2 separate regions of the Homo sapiens genome follow, and region 2 is linked to region 1. The links come from fine-mapping of genetic effects on gene expression. Tissue or cell type: visceral fat. Region 1 holds a variant in brackets; the other region holds the start of a gene. All regions are shown on one strand. Distances are from middle to middle. Region 1 overlaps RNF157 (ring finger protein 157). Region 2 holds the start of RNF157 (ring finger protein 157).

Evidence for each region. PIP is the estimated chance that this variant, and not a neighbour inherited with it, causes the effect.
Region 2: RNF157 starts here. The variant in region 1 is the best candidate, but not a certain one, in a credible set for the expression of RNF157 in visceral fat (GTEx, PIP 0.83).

The regions. Positions count from the first base shown.
Region 1 is chr17:76,211,573-76,214,587 of GRCh38, forward strand. RNF157 (ring finger protein 157) reads right to left here. Exons shown (of 19, transcript NM_052916.3): 2 at 792-910. Among named protein-coding and RNA genes, the nearest start is that of RNF157, 27 kb to the right of the region's middle. The variant G/A (reference allele first, on the strand shown) is at 1,200.
Region 2 is chr17:76,239,125-76,241,881 of GRCh38, forward strand. RNF157 (ring finger protein 157) reads right to left here and starts at 1,369. Exons shown (of 19, transcript NM_052916.3): 1 at 1,029-1,369. The coding sequence starts at 1,116. It overlaps LOC105371896 (a long non-coding RNA gene), which reads right to left. Exons shown (of 6, transcript XR_007065913.1): 6 at 1,738-2,757. RefSeq lists an enhancer at 337-1,009 and silencers at 1,314-1,453, 1,474-1,543.

The DNA.
Region 1 (3,015 bases):
AAAACCCTTAGAACAGTGCTTAGAACATAGTGTGCACTTCCTAGCTTCTGTCATTATTCATCTCTCTGAACACCTCAGTTCTCTCGCTTATAAAATAGAGTGATAAGTCCTAAGTCAAGTGGTCTTCATATGGAACAGGGGTCTCTAGGACCTTCCTAGCACACGGTAGCCACTCAATAGCCACCTGGCGGCTATTATTACAAAGCCTCCTGCATGATGCAGAGAAGGTGCGCAATAGAAATTTATGAGAAGGAACAAGTGAGAGAAATGTATTCTCATATCAACTCATATATCAAGAGAAAAATTTTCAGTCATTCATTCAACAATCATTTATTAAGGGCTTAACATTACGTGCCAGGCTTTGTTCTAGGTTTGGGATACTACAGTAAAAACAGTCCTTGCCTTATGAAACTTACGTTCTAGAGGAGGAGGCAGACAATAAGCAGAGAAAGAGACAAATCAATAAAAGGTTGGTGTTAAGTGCCATGAAGAAAAAAAAAAAAGGTAAGCCCTTGGAAAAGGGTTGCCTAAAGAGGTGACAGGGAGAGATCTGTCCTAGCTTAATTTGTGAGACTCATCCTCTCCCTCACAAGACTCCAGGAGCTCTTCCAGTCCTCTAGCAACAAGAGATCCCATACAACCAAGGAGGCTGCAGTTTGTCTTCTAGTGCATCTCTCTCAACTCAGACCAAGCTACAAACTGCTGAACAAGCAACTGCAAACTTATTTTTGTTACATTTTTTGAATTGGCCACTTAAGCTCCAAGTAGGAGTAAACTGATTACAGCCATACCACAACTGGTCTGTTCCCCAGAAAGTTCAGATCGCTGTTCTCTCCAAACAGGTAACCTTCAGGATGAGTTGAGTCAAACTTCTCTCCTCCCATAATGAAGTGGCTGGCAAAATAGCTTCCTAGAGAGGAACAAACAAAAAAAATCAAACAAGCAGAAAACAGTCAACCTAAATCTAGTAAAAAAAAAAAGCTGATTTTTAAAATGTTAACCTTTTGGGCTGTGCGTGGTGGCTCACACCTGTAATCCCAGCACTTTGGGAGGCTGAGGCAGACAGATCGCCTGAGATAAGGAGTTCGAGACCAGCCTGGCCAACATGGCAAAACCCTGTCTCTACTAAAAATGTAAAAATTAGCCGGGTGTGGTGGCACATGCCTGTAGTCCCAGCTACTCAGGAAGCTGAGGCAGGA[G/A]GATGGCTTGAACCCAGGAAACAGAAGTGCAGTGAGCCGAGATCCTAGCACTACACTCCAGTCTGGGCGACAGAGTGAGACTCTGTTTCAAAAAAACAAAAACAAAAAAGTTAACCCTCTGAATGAATAATTAGAGCAATTTCTAATCCCAGAGTGTTTTCTTTTCCTGATTTGGGACAATGGCACAAAATAAGTAAAATCATAGCAGGGAAAACCCCAGATACCAAACGTAGACTAGATCACTGTTTTCCTTTTAACATTCTTAACTGAATTCTTCTAATGATCTGTTTAAAATACCTCCAGCCAAAAGACCAAAAGGTTCTACAATGCACATTAATGATCATATATATTTTTTGGTTCCTGACTTTTGCCTTTAAACTTGAAGTAGTTATTCCATGTATTGAAGAATCTCAGCTACAGGTATCGGCATATACATACACTGTGATATTGTAAAATATATGTTTGATCTTCAACCCTATTTCCTGGAATGCAACTCTTAAAATCCTTGGAATATCCAGGCCGGCATGGTGGCTCATGCCTGTAATCCCAGCACTTTGGGAGGCTGAGGAGGGCGGATCACTTGAGGTCAGGAGTTAGAGACCAGCCTGGCCAACACGGTGAAACCCCATCTCTACTAAAAATACAAAAATTAGCCAGGCATGGTGGCATGCGCCTGAAGTCCCAGGTACTTGGGAGGCTGAGGCAGGAGAATCTCTCGAACCCGGGAGGCAGAGGTTGCAGTAAGCCAAGATCACACCACTACACTCCAGCCTAGGTGACAGAGCAAAACTCCATCTCAAAAAAAAAAAAAAAAAATGCTTGGAATATCCAAAGTGATGTCTTTTTTTTTTGTCTTTACATATGCTAATGAATTAACCACTGCCTGGCAGCCCCTAGGTAGCCTCAGGATGGCGGCTGGTCACTGGAAAGAAAAGGCAGGATTAGAGGGTGGGGACTTTCAGCCCATCCCCCAACCACTGAGGAAGGGAGAGGGGATGAAAGTTAAGTTGATCATCAATGTCCAATGATGTAATCAACCATGCTATGTAATGAAGCTTCTATAAATACCCAAAGGACTGGTTCAGAAAGCTTCCAAACAGGGGAACACTTACAGGTTTCTGGAGGGTAACATGCCCAGAGACGGCATAGAAGCTCTGTGCCCCTTCTCACATAACCTCGCCCTATGTATCTCTCTCTGTATCCTTTGTAATATCCTTGATAATAAACTCGTAAATGTGTTTCTCTAGTTCTGTGAGTCCCTCTAGCAAGTTAATCACACCCAAGGAGGGGGTTATGGGAACCCTGCTTTCTGGTTGGTTAGTTGGAAGCACAGGTAAAACAACCTGGGGCTTGCGATGGGCATCAGAAGTGGGGGGCAGTCTTGTGAGATTGCACCCTCAACCTGTGGGATGGGACACTATCTTCAAGTAGTATCAGAAGTGAAATGAATTGGAGGACACCCAGCTGGTGTCCTCTGCAGAACTGAGTGGTTGCTGGTGGAGAGAATCCCCACACATTTTGCTGACCAGAGGTCACAGAAGTTTTCTGTGCTGCTTGTGTTGTGAGTGTATAGGAGAAACTGAGTTTTTTTCCTATATCCGCAGACGCACACATTTCTTTGCCTAGATTTTCATAAGCCAGCTTATACCTACACACAGAAGTCTCAGTACCCACCCACCACTACTGCTATACCTCCATAACCTTCTATGATGAAGGTTCTTCACACTTTAACTTGCTGCAAACATTATTGTTTCACAGGAAAATACGAATTTAGATAATACAGTTATCCCTGGCTTTCTCTACCAATTACTACACA
Region 2 (2,757 bases), 27 kb after region 1:
TCGGGTCCTAAGCAGACAGAATGTCGCAGCCATTCATCCTCAGAAGTCTTGAGAATAAAATTAAAAGTAATTAATTAAAATAAAACTACTTGCAATTAAAAGTAAACACCGGCTAGGTCATGCAATTCATACTGGCCGGTGCTCACATAACTGAACTACCTTGTGATTCTCTGCTTTGCTGTCAAAATCCTCCTCCACCTCCAATGCTGATACCACAATCCAGAGGCTAGAGACATTTAAGTGAAGGGATGATTCTAATAACAAACATACTTCTATACGTTTCCAATACCTCTGCCCTGTCCCAGAGCTGGTCCCACTCCAAAACCCAGGCTTGCCACTACGCTAGCAAAGGGGCAATCCGAGTAACTCTGATACTCAGATTCCCAAACATTTCTGTTACTTTCCACCACCACCACCCCCCCCACCCCCCGGCTTCTGACAGCCTCTGCAAAAGCACCAGCACTGCAAATGCCTGTTTGGCTTCCATCCTTCAGCAGGCAATGGAAGCTTTTCCAGGAGAAACCTAATTCTAACCTTTCCAGAGGCCAGGAGACGGCAGCGCAGGGATAGCACCTGGCGCAAGTGCCTGTTTGGATGCCGAGGTCGCCTCCCTCGCGGCCCTCGGACCCCGCGAGGCAGGTAGGCTTTGGGCCGGGCCGGCCGGGTCCGTGCGGGGCGCCGACCTCGCCTACGACGCCGCAGCCCCGCTCCCCAGGAGCCTCGGTCCCTGCGGGCACGCGTCCCCGTCACGGGGCCGATTACAATGGAGGCCGCTCCCGTCCTCCCGTGGAGGGGCTCGGTGCCCTCGGTGACCCTGCTAGACCCGGCAGGACGCCCCTTGGGCTAATTCGCCCGGGGCGGGGGAGACCTCGGCCTTCTCGAAGACCTCCCGCGCTCGAAGACCGTTTCGGAGCGTCCGCAACCACTGAGTCCCCGAAGACCCGCGGGGCCCCCTCAGGCCGTCCCGACCCAGACCCCTGCCCCTGCCCCTCTCCCTCCTCGCGGCTGCGGCGCCCGCCCGCCCTCACCGGACTTGGGCGGGTAGCGGTACACGGAATTAGACGGGATGTCCACCTCCTCCACGCCCGCGTGCTGCCGGCTCGTCAGGGCCCCCATGGCCGCTGCGGCTGCAGCCCCGGCCCGGCCCCGGTGCCCGCGCCGCCCTCCGCGCTTCACCGCGGCCGCCCGCCCCGCGCCCGGTGCGGGGGCCGACTGCCCGCCGCGGCCGGCTCCGCTGCGGCGCTGCGGCTCTGGCGGCGGGGAGCCCCCGGCGCGCCGCGCACCATCCTCCGCCGGGCACCGCGGCGGCGCCTCTGCCAAGGGGGCTGCGGGTCTGGGCCGGGGGCGCCGCCGCCGCCTCAGGCCGCGTGATGTCAGCGGCCGCTCCGCGCGGGGACCGCGGCGGCCCCAGCCAATGGCGAGGCGGGGCGGGAGCGCCCGCGCCGGAGCAGCCAATGAGCGCGGGACTGCAGCAGGAGCCGGCGGCGCGTGCCTCGCGCGGGGAGCCGCGGCTGGACTCGGCGCGCGTGGACGCGGCCCAGGGCCTCGCGGCGGGGGCGTGGGCGTGGGCGGGGACTCGCGACGGGGACGGGGGCGCGGCCGGGTGCCCGCGGCGGGGCGGGGCGGGACCGGCCGGAGCTGGGACCCCAGGAGACGAGCGCTGCACCCGGCCGGGACGCGTCGCCCCTCCGCGCCTGTTTATCCCGGCTCGGATTACCGCGCAGGGAGCCGCCCCCTCCCGCGGTCCGCGAGGACTGGCCGGGAGCTCGCTCGCCATTGTCCTGGGCGTCCCAAAGCGGGCGGTCCCCGCTCCGCTGCTCCCGCGCCTGGAGGAAGCCTTCCCAACCCCGCCCCTCAGCGTCGGCCGGCGGAGGTCTTCGGAAATCTCATGCAGGGGGGTAGGGAGAGGGGTCCCACGGTGCATTCGCATGTCTCCTGCCCCGTGTTAATGCTGGTGACCGGCTAGGAAGATGCCGCCTCCCTCTCACGTGCGTCTATTCAAAGCGCTCCCAACTCTATACATGCTGTTTAAGGCTCCTTGTAGCCCTAAAGTTAGGAGAACATCGACTGAGGATAAGATCAAGACATCCAGCCTCTGTCTGTATCGTGGAAACGGGACCCCGGAAACTTTGGAAAGGCCTGAGTGCCAAGAGAGTCAACGCAGGCGAAAGCGAACCGGGCCAGGCAGAACCGGGAGCTCCTGTTGATAAAAACACACACAACAGTGGGAAGCTTGGGCCGGCGGAAGACGTCATTCCATTGCTTAATTACAGACATTTGTGTTTTAAACCTTCTATTTTCTTTGTGGGTCTGGTGTTTTTTTTCCTGAGAGAGTGGACTGATCAGCAAACATTTCAACTGCTAGAACATGACTTTCACAACTTTTCAACAGTGTTCGAAGTACAGTTTGGGGTGTCTGGTTCCCTTGATTAGGTTTGTAAAGCTATTTTACGGAGTCTAGGTCTTTCCTGGTTATATTTTGTTTTTGTTTTTCTGTGTTTTGAGACGGAGTCTCCCTCTGTCGCCCAGGCTGGAGTGCAGTGGCGTGATCTCAGCTCACTGCAACCTCCGCCTCCTGGGTTCAAGGGATTCTCCTGCCTCAGCCTCCCGAGTAGCTGAGACTACGGGCATGTGCCACCACACCCGGCTAATTTTTCTACTTTTAGTAGAGATGGGGTTTCACCATGCTGGCCAGACTGGTCTCCAATTCCTGACCTCCGCCCCCCAAAGCGCTGGGATTACAGGCGTGAGCCACCG